Linked DNA regions of Homo sapiens: regions 1 and 3 are each reported to be linked to region 2. The links are microRNA targets in miRTarBase. Many come from high-throughput screens and were not tested one by one. Region 2 holds a microRNA gene; each other region holds the end of a gene's coding sequence. Distances are from middle to middle.
The links. Region 2 holds the annotated microRNA hsa-miR-4684-5p (CUCUCUACUGACUUGCAACAUA, at 831-852, opposite strand). A microRNA usually pairs through its seed, bases 2 to 8, with sites in the 3' UTR of a target mRNA and lowers its output. Matches are read on the target gene's strand: a 7mer-m8 pairs with bases 2 to 8, a 7mer-A1 pairs with bases 2 to 7 and ends in A, and an 8mer does both.

Region 1 (3,346 bases), not on the chromosome of region 2:
ACTTAGGTCCCTTTGAGACTCAAACCACTTAACCAGTCCCAAGAGTTTAAAGATTCTTAAATTCAGAATTGCTTTTTAGATGCAACCAGAGGTAAGATCCCACTGTACCAAAAAGGGAAAGACATTCTTTGAAGCTAAATTGAACTAGATGGTTTCCTGAAGAATGAAGCCAGGGGTGGTGGCTCATGCCTGTAATCCTAGCACTTGGGGAGGCCGAGGAGGGCTATCACTTGAGGTCAGGAGTTCAAGACCAGCTGGCCAACACGGTGAAACGCCATCTCTTCTAAAAATACAAAAAAATTAGCTGGGGATAGTGGCGGCCACCTGTAATCCCAGCTATTCAGGACGCTGAGGCAGGAGAATCACTTGAACCTGGGAGGTGGAGGTTGCAGTGAGCTGAGATCGTGCCACCGTACTCTAACCTGAGTGACAGTGACACTCTCAAAAAAAAAAAAAAAAAAAAAAAAAAACTGAACCATGGAAGGAACTCACAAACCTCCAGCCTGCCTTGAAAGGGGTAACAAAATACCTAGTCAACAAGAAGACTGTCACCCAAGGGACCTGAAGTGCACATAATCCTGCCAAGGAAAGCACGCACCAATCTGCCCCCAGTTGCCCAGTACTTACTGTATCTAAAACTGAGCCAGGCCTTCAGCCCATAGGTGAAGATACATTCAGTGTTCCCAGTGGCAAGATTCAGCATCAGAAATTAGACAAAGGGCATGTCTTACAGTAAGGGAATTTTGTACAAAAGTCCAAAGGGAGGTGTATGGTGCTTTGTGGTTCAGATAATACAGAAAGTTGAGGAGCTTGATGGGGCAGAGAATGAAAACCAGCTATATGGTGGCAGCCTTGTTAACCCAAACAGATTCATTTACAGGTCCATTTTTTCAGGGTATAGAACCAGCAAGTTACAGGCTTCATCTGCTTGAAGTTAATGTGACTGTAGTTCTTCGTGTATGTATGGCTATTTTTTTCTTCTGCATCCCCTTGACTTGGCATAGTACTTGATCCAGTGGATATCAAAGTTTTGTGAGTTTCTGTTTTGAGTTTGCCAGTCTGTGCCATCTAATTCTCAAATCAGACCAAGGTAGGGAAGACAGCTAGCTTCTTCTTAGTGGTCTTCAATGTGGGTAGGGAGGGATTTTGCCTTTCTCAGAGGCATAGACATTTTTAGTTGTCACAATTGTGGAAGAGGGTGCTACTGGCATCTAGCAGGTAGAGTCCAGGGATGAAGTTAATCCTAAATCAAAATCAAAATAATAAACATCCTACAATGCCAGCATTGGTTTCTACAACAAATGATAATCTGGCCCAAAATCTCAACAGTGCCAAAATTAAGTAATTCTGTGTCTAGCAGACAGTAAGAAAAACACTAAGGGCCAGGTGCAGTGGCTCACGCCTGTAATCCCAGCACTTTGGGAGGCCGAGGCAGGTGGATCACCTGAGGTCAGGGGTTTGAGACCAGCCTAGCCAACATGGTGAAACCCCATCTCTACTAAAAATACAATATTAGCCACTTGAAGCCAGGAGGCGGAGGTTGCAGTGAGCCAAGATTACGCCACTGCACTCCAGACTGGGCGATAGAGCAAGACTGTCTCAAAAAAAAGAAAAAAAAAAAAGAAAAAACATTATGTTCAATCCTGAGCTCTGCTGTTCCAAAAACAAAAGATCAAAGGAGTCTGAAATGATAGGAATCGTTTTGGTTCAGACTTCTCTGGACATAGATCCCTTATCAGACGAAAACATAACTCATGCTAAAAAAAAACCTAGGCAAAAATAAGATTTAAAATGGAAGAATAAAATACTCTATATGGAAATCCTCAGCATGAGAAGGAAAAACAAATATTCACAGGGAAGATTATGGAATGTTCTCACCAAATGTAAAACAGGCCCAGTCAATGCCATTTATTATACATGTCAAACAGCTTCTAAGACCGACGGGCTCCCATAATAAGGTTTTGGGGATTTTTTGTTTTGTTTTTCATTTTCTTTTTTGCATCAAACAGGTTCTTCCAAAAGCCTGCTCACAAGGTAGACAAAAACATAAATCTTCAGGAAAATGAAACATGAGAAGCTGAAACAATCTACACCTGAATGTTAAAAAACTCATCAGACACAAACCACACCAAACACTCATCCCATTTAATTTCCTGTTACATGCTCTGAGGAAGCCAAGAACATCAGGCCCCAGGGCAGCAATGCTCTAGGATTCCAGCTCGGACCCCCTCTATATGACAGATTCATGCACACACATCCACACACCATAGAACCAGGCAGAAATACACATGCATGCACAGGTGGCTAGAGAACCATAGGGCAGGATGGGAAAAAGGGCTGATCAAGGATATGCAATCAACTGGAAACTGGGACCTAGAGAATGCTTCTGTTGCAGGATGAACATGAGTTAAAATTAAAACAAAGGCAGAACACAGGATAAAGGTGGGATGTTCAGACAAGAGGTGGGATAGATGAAGAGATAAAGATGCAGGGGGAGTTTTGGGAAAGCAGCCTCAGAAGGGGAGGTTTTTCTTTATTGGGAACTCAGGTGGGCAGGGTCCTGTGACTCCAGTGATACACTGAGGCAGAAGCAATATGCCACAGCATTACCTCTGCAATCTGTGCCCTCTCCCAAAGTAGAGGGAAACCATGAGCCCCCACCCTCTATCCCTCCCCATTGACACTCTTAAGAACTTTCCCATTACCCAAAAAGAAATGACCCCCTACTACACACACACACACGCAAAGTTAGGTCCAGCATAGGCCAAAGTCAGGCCAAGCACAGAAAGCCTCAGTAACTCTTCTTGGTGGAACCAAAGCCAGAGAAGCCCATCACAGCTGCCATCTCATCGTCCTCCTCAAATGTCAAGTCCTCCTCAGCCCTCCTTTTCTTCTCCTTCTGTTTCTCTTTCTTGTACGCTTTGGCCTTTTCCTCCTGGAGGGAAAAATCACTCAGAATCAGTTTAGACTCCTCAGCCAAATGTTGTTTGTAACAACAACTAACATTCTGGGGCATGCAGTACATGCCAGAAATTGCTCTGAGTACTTCATGTATATTAAGATCTCTAATATGGGGATATTGAGGCACAAAGAGGTTATATAACTTGCCCAAGATTCACAGCCAGTAAGTGGAAGAAACAGAATTTTGACCCAGTCAGCCTGATTTCATGGGTCTCTTTAGGACTAGGTACATTTAGTTAATTCCTCTTGCAGTTAAAAAAAAAAAAAAATTATGGGGGAGGCTATGCATGTTGTGGGGGACAGTGGGTATATGGGAAATCTTTATAACTCCCTCTCAATTTTGTTGCAAACCTAAACTCCTCTAAAAAAAGTTTAGTCTTTTAAA
Region 2 (3,000 bases):
CCATTAAATTTTCCATGCTGAACAGCTGAGCAAGAAATGGGACTTCTCTTCAAGGATAAAACAAAAAAATCAAGCCCAGTATATTTTCCTTTTCCTTGAACCTGATGAGGAAGCCTGGGATGAATCTGAGCTGGTGTTGTGACTGGCTTTGACCACCACAGAAGGCTGCAGGGGTGACACTTTGTGACATTAGAGCCCAGCCCTTAAGAAGCCTTGCAGTTTCCATTTCACCATCTTGGGAGCTAATTGCCATGGATAGAGGCGCAGTCTAGACTAGCAAAGGATGGGAGATAGCGAGGAGCGTAGGGGGACCAGCCTTCCAGCCTTCTCTATGAGGGCCTCAAAGATGTATGTGAAGCCACGATGGAATTTCCAGCCCAACCTAGCTGAGTGCAGCCTCCTGAGTGATCCCAACTGACAACCCGGGGAACAGAATAAGCACCCAGCTGAGCCCAGCCAATCCACTGAATCAGGACAACTAAGAAATCATTATTGTTTTAAGCCAGTAGGTTTTGTGGTGGCTTGCTAAAGATAAGTGATATGCTTTTCAGGAGTGGAGTCCTGTACTTTTTGTAGCTCTCCCTTCCCTTGCCTGAACCCCTGAACCCTGGCAATGGGCACTGAATCCTGGAGCTGGAAGAGGCCTCCAAAATCACTGAGTCTCACCCCTGTCATTTTATAGAAGAGAGAGCTGAGGCTCGGGAAGCCATGCAATTGACTCCAGGTCACACAGGGTAACAGGGGCAGATCCAGGAGGCAAACTCAAGCCCTTACAGGGGTTGAGCACCAAGGGTACGTCTCCACCGACTTGCAACACACCAAGACAAATGTATGTTGCAAGTCAGTAGAGAGGTACCCCTGGTGCTCACACATTCTGTCTTAAGAGGCAGTCACTCCAGCCAACTGTGGCCATGTGGGAATGTGGGCCCTGTGAAACCAGATTGTCTGACTTTTCAGAAACGCCAGAAACAGGACTTTTCTGTAAAATCTCTTGATTTTCAAATGTTGGCTAAGAATTTGAACTGGATAGATGAGCTATTAAGATTGGCCCTGGGCTTCAAGCTTGGTCCCGCTGCTGGCTTTGGGCGAGTCATATTATCTCCCAGACCTCAGTTTCCTCATCTCTAAAGTGGGCCCCGTGGCTCCTGCCCCTTTCAGGATGGCTGTGAAGGCCTGATGAGCTATTGTATTTGGAAGTACAAGCTGCAAATGGCCCTGTGACTGTTTCGTAGTCTCCATTCTCTGTGGAGGCGCCCCTTACAACATAATGAGTTAACACCCGATTTGTCTAAGTTAGAACAACATTATTCTGACCATTATCACAGAGATTGCATTTTTATGGCAGGTTTGTGAGTTGTAGAACCCTCCCATTGCATTATCTCAGGATGTTGATGGAGCTGGAAGCTGGACAGCTGCCTTAGAGACCCTCATCAGAGCCAAGCCTTTCCTCTGAGCAGGGAGGCACATTCTAGAAGTGGAGAAGAGCATGAGCTCTGGAGTCACCAGACTTGGGTTTCAATCGCTGCCTCACCACTCCCTAGGTGTCCTTGGGCCAGTCACTCCTCTCAGAGCTTTGGTTTTCTCATCTGTAAAATGGGCACAATAATACAACGACCTGTGGGGCTCTTGGGGCAACTGCACAAGGCAACACACATAATGCTGTTAGTACAATGTCTGGCACAAGAATTGACAGCTGCTGGGCGCGGTGGCTCACACCTGTAATCCCAGCACTTTGGGAGGCCGAGGCAGGTGGATCGCCTGAGGTCAGAGTTCGAGACCAGCCTGACCAACATAGTGAAACCCCATCTCTACTAAAATATACAAAAAATTAGCCGGGCATGGTGGCAGGCATCTGTAATCCCAGCTACTCAGGGAGGCTGAGGCAGGAAAATCTCTTGAACCCGGGAGGCAGAGGTTGCAGTGAGCCGAGATTGCACCACTGCAGTCCAGCCTGGGCAACAAGAGCAATACTCTGTCTCAAAAAAAAAAAAAAAAAAAAAAAGAATTGACAGCCATTCCCATGATCATGGCAGGGAAGGTGGTGCCTGGCAGGCACTGGGCAAAGAAGGAGGGTACAGCCATGAAGGAGTCTACCCCTTTCCCAGATTAGGGAGGCTGAATTGGAGTGGGGAGGGGGCCTTTGAGAAAACCTGGATGGTACCCTGAGTGGGCAGGCTGGAGGGGCCTCTCAGCTACTTGGCAAGCCAGTCAGACCCTTGCCCTGTAAGGCTCAGAACACAGTGGGTGGGGGAGAGCTGGAGATGAAAAACCTGGTACACTGGCCCCCTGTTCCCCTACTGTGAATTGAGCTTCCCATTGGTAGAAAGCAAGGATAGCAACCGTTCACATTTATTGCAAGCTTAGCACACCTGAGGCACACACTCAGCTTAGTCTTCCTCAGATTAACACATCCATTGCTCACAACCATCTCAAGAGCTAGGAACAATGATTACCCCCATTTGAAAGATGAGGAAACCAAGGCTCAGAGAGGTGAAAACACAAGCCAGAGGACACACAGTACGGAGCAGTCTGACTCCACACACATTTCCTGTAACCCCCAGGCTCTGCTGTTTATAGAACAGGAGAGAAAGTGATCAGGGCTAAGCAAAGCCTCTGTAGGACTTCAGAGAAAGGGACAAGTCATTCTGGCCAGGGGCACGAGGGTGCTGCTGACATTTAATGGTTACGGAAACTAATAAAGAATGGACACAGCTGAGTGCCAGGCAGTTCTGCCAGTCATGGTACACAGCATCTCACTGAATCCTCGCCATGAGCCTCTGACACATGCGCGGTATTCTCCAGTTTCCAGATGAGGAAGCTGAGGCTCAGAGAGTGGATCACTTGGTCAAGGCCACACAGCAGGCAAGGTCCCCTCTTCTGAGGACACTCCCACCCCACAGGGGCTGCAGCAGGGGGGCAGATGGCTCCAGGAAGCTCACCTAGTGAGGGTGTCCTAGGCAAGCCCCCAGATGACACGGGGGTACTGGGGAGACAGGTGTC
Region 3 (3,330 bases), 16 Mb from region 2:
GTTTTAAAGTGGAGATTCTGAAGTGGAAAATAGGTACTGTCAGAACAAAGCTACCTGGAAACAGCATAGAGTGAAGCCTTTCGTGAGGGCTTGCAGGCCGCTGCTGAGTGGCAGTTTACAGAAGAGGTCGCGGGGTGAGCCTCTTAGCAGGACAGAAAACAAGGCAGCAGCGCACCTGCCACCCCTTCACGAGCTGCTCCTTGAGCCTAAAAAGTAGGCTTTATTCATCCCTTCTGTTCATTTACCAACCTGGGGGATTGATACGACCGGGGAAAATGTTCCTAAACCAGGAAGCTGCGTTAGCCGATCAGGCTTTGTAAGATCTCGCCAACAGCTAGCTGCTTAGGAGTACCCCCACGATACGCACAGCACACCACTGTCCCTTCACTGCACTTTCTTCCTGCCTTAGGTAGTTGGGCTTGCCCACCCTAGTTTGCTTTTGTAGTGGTTTGGCAAGGTTAGAAGGCCTCGGCCTCTCTGTCATGCTGGGAAGTGCCTACTCTCTGGGCCACTGCTGCAGAGGCCGTGGCACTTGTCATGGGTTTGGAAGACCCAGCCATCTGCAGCAGAGGCAGCCTATCCCATTGCAAGGAGAGGAACTGAACGGAGTAATTATTCTACTCTTCTTTTTACATAAATGTTTATTTAAATATTCTAAATTGGATTTTCTTTCACAGATACTGATTATTCTTTCCAGTTCTTAAATAAAACTGCACTTGATTTCACTCAACCACAGTGTGATTGTCTGGGATGTGAAACTCTGAGGTCACTCTTGGGTAAGAAGCGTCTTAAGCCTTTAGCCTCAAACGACGTGTGTTTGGCCTCCTCAATTTCTTTCTGAATTCCTACCTCTAACCAGTTGTAATGATAATTCCTTTTGCCCTGCAGGCCACCACATAGGTTTGTAAGGCCTTGGAACAGGAGCCTCAGTGCCCCTGAAGTAGCAGGTGCAGGGACAGTGGACGTCAATGTGAGTGATGTGTTATGTGTTGAATGTGCTGCCATGTTAGCACGTAGACCCATTTGCTGTTAATCACTGAATCAAGCTGAATATTTGCTTAAATGTGACTATCTGGGCATCATTTTGCCACAAAAACTTGTAAAATTTTACGTCACGTGGGTTACTTTTTAAAAAGCATTTATTAAGCTCCTCTAAATGAAAAGGATACTGTGGAGAAATGGAAAACTGCTGGGAAAAAACTACTAGAAAAAAGGTTGCTGCCACCCAGTGCCTTGCTATCAACGGAAGTCGGACTCAGGAGGGCTGCAGGAGTTTGGGAAAGCAGCGAAGTTGTAACTGAGACCATCTGCCACATAAGCTGGCCAGGTGCTAACCCCTGGCTTTAGGAGCTCTGCCCTTGCTGGAAAGGGAGAGAAGCTGGAGCAAACGTTCCTCATCCTTCCATGAGTCACTGCTCAGATTACTGTGTGGAACTTCCCAGTAGCACCAGGTTAACAGTGGGACTGTTATTCCGGAGGAACTGGATTCCTTTGCAATAGGGCAGGTGCCACTCAGTGGTGGAGTCTTGTTACCTAAAACCGGCACACCCTGACATACCACACTCTGCCCAGCACAGGGCCTGGCACACCGACGCTCGGTGCGTAGGTGTGGAACTAGCGAGGGATTTCTTGCTGGATTGTCACTCCCTGATGTTTTCCATGTGGACTGGGAGTCATCCCAAGCTACTGTGACAAGGACGAAGACTTCATGCCATGCAAACACGGGGAAAATCAAAACTGCCCAAGCCAAAGGATCTGAAATTATGGCCTGTCAGAGCTTCTGGGTTTTACTCTTGACAAATGATTACCTTTTAAAGAAATAACCGGCCGGGCACAGTGGCTTACCCCTGTAATCCCAGCATTTTGGGAGGCCGAGGTGGGCGGATCACCTGAGGTTGGGAGTTCGAGGCCAGCCTGACCAACATGGAGAAACCCCCTCTCTACTTAAAATACAAAAAATTAGCCGGGTGTGATGGTACATGCCTGTAATCCCAGCTACTCTGGGGGCTGAGGTAGGAGAATCGCTTGAACCTGGGAGGCGGAGGTTGCGGTGAGCCAGAGATTGCGCCATTGCACTCCAGCCTGGGCAACAAAGAGTGAAATTCTGTCTTAAAAACAACAACAACATTGGCCAGGCGCGGTGACTCACCCCTGTAATCTCAGCACTTTGGGAGGCTGAGGCAGGTGGATCACCTGAGGTCTGGCGTTTGAGACCAGCCTGGCCAACATGGTGAAACCCCATCTCTACTAAAAATACAAAAAATTAGCGGGGCGTGGTGTCAGGCGCCTGTAATCCCAGCTACTCGGGAGGCTGAGGCAGGAGAATCGCTTGAACCCAGGAGGCAGAGGTTGCAGTGAGCCGAGATTGCACCATTACACTCCAGCCTGGGCAACAGAGCGAAACTCCATCTCAAAAATAAAAAATAAAAAAAACCATCATGGGAACAACCTTCTGTCCAGTGTCCCAGTCTTGTGCCTGCTCTAAGAGCCTGACCCTGGGGACCGGTCCCATTTGCTAAGTCGGGTGTTCCCTCCATGTGGGGACATCGCCCCCATTTTTCTGTTTGGATCTGTGATGATCCATATTTTTCAGTAGAGGCTCTTCTGAGAGGCCGTTCGGAGCCCAGCTGTTTCCTTTAGGCTCTGATGTCTTCTCTCTCTTTTCCGGGACACTTCCTGGATTATTCCTAAAGGGACAGCCTCATGTAAGCCCAGCCCGCTCCCCCATTTCACCATATCCCTGCACTAAAATCCACTTGGGCCAAAGCACTCAGAATGGAACGTCTTCCTGGAAGGCCTCAGTGAGTGAGAACCAGGAAGGCTCTGTCTCCAAAAGGACCTTGTCTACTTCTGAGTAGGAGCCCATCCCCAGGGGATGGCTGTGAGTTGCTGAACCATCAGCCTGTGTCAGCGGTTTCTGGTGACACTGCATTTTGAATTTGGAAGCATCTGAGCTAATAAATGGCGGCTGTGCAGGGGAGGCTGGGGCCAGACTCTGCTCTGTCACCAGCCGCGCTGTGACTCTGGCCACTTCAGCAACCCTCTGCACACCCCTAGGCTCTTCTGGTTCTCATTCTACAGTGCTGTCCTCTGCCCTGTGACTATGTTTTCCTGAAAGCAAAATACACAAAGATCAGCCTGTGACTGTGTCGTAGGTGTTAATGCACAGCCGTCTTCCTCTGGCAGGTACTGGGGCGCATGCGCTGGCTCTGGGGAACAGTCCTCGGTCACTTTCTCATTTCAGTGACCCGAGTCCCCTAGCATAAGCACGTGCAGCTCCCAGTGGTGAAAGTGGATGCAGGCAGCAGCCATGGCTGTTTATAATGGTAA

Region 1: miRTarBase lists ZMAT2 as a target of hsa-miR-4684-5p. The part of its 3' UTR that is shown has no 7-base or 8-base seed match.
Region 3: the mRNA of RNF207 is a reported target of hsa-miR-4684-5p. Seed matches in the 3' UTR shown: 7mer-m8 at 2,242-2,248 and 7mer-m8 at 1,938-1,944.

The regions. Positions count from the first base shown.
Region 1 is chr5:140,705,202-140,708,547 of GRCh38, reverse strand. It overlaps ZMAT2 (zinc finger matrin-type 2), which reads right to left. Exons shown (of 6, transcript NM_144723.3): 6 at 1,862-2,935. The coding sequence ends at 2,792. Among named protein-coding and RNA genes, the nearest start is that of ZMAT2, 6.4 kb to the right of the region's middle.
Region 2 is chr1:22,717,382-22,720,381 of GRCh38, reverse strand. It overlaps MIR4684 (microRNA 4684), which reads right to left and starts at 865; the gene lies at 784-865. All of the region lies in intron 1 of EPHB2 (EPH receptor B2), which reads right to left. RefSeq lists an enhancer at 2,529-3,000.
Region 3 is chr1:6,218,593-6,221,922 of GRCh38, reverse strand. It overlaps RNF207 (ring finger protein 207), which reads right to left. Exons shown (of 18, transcript NM_207396.3): 18 at 624-2,687. The coding sequence ends at 2,516. It overlaps ICMT (isoprenylcysteine carboxyl methyltransferase), which reads left to right. Exons shown (of 5, transcript NM_012405.4): 5 at 1-730. Among named protein-coding and RNA genes, the nearest start is that of RNF207, 14 kb to the right of the region's middle. RefSeq lists silencers at 2,272-2,457, 2,888-3,088.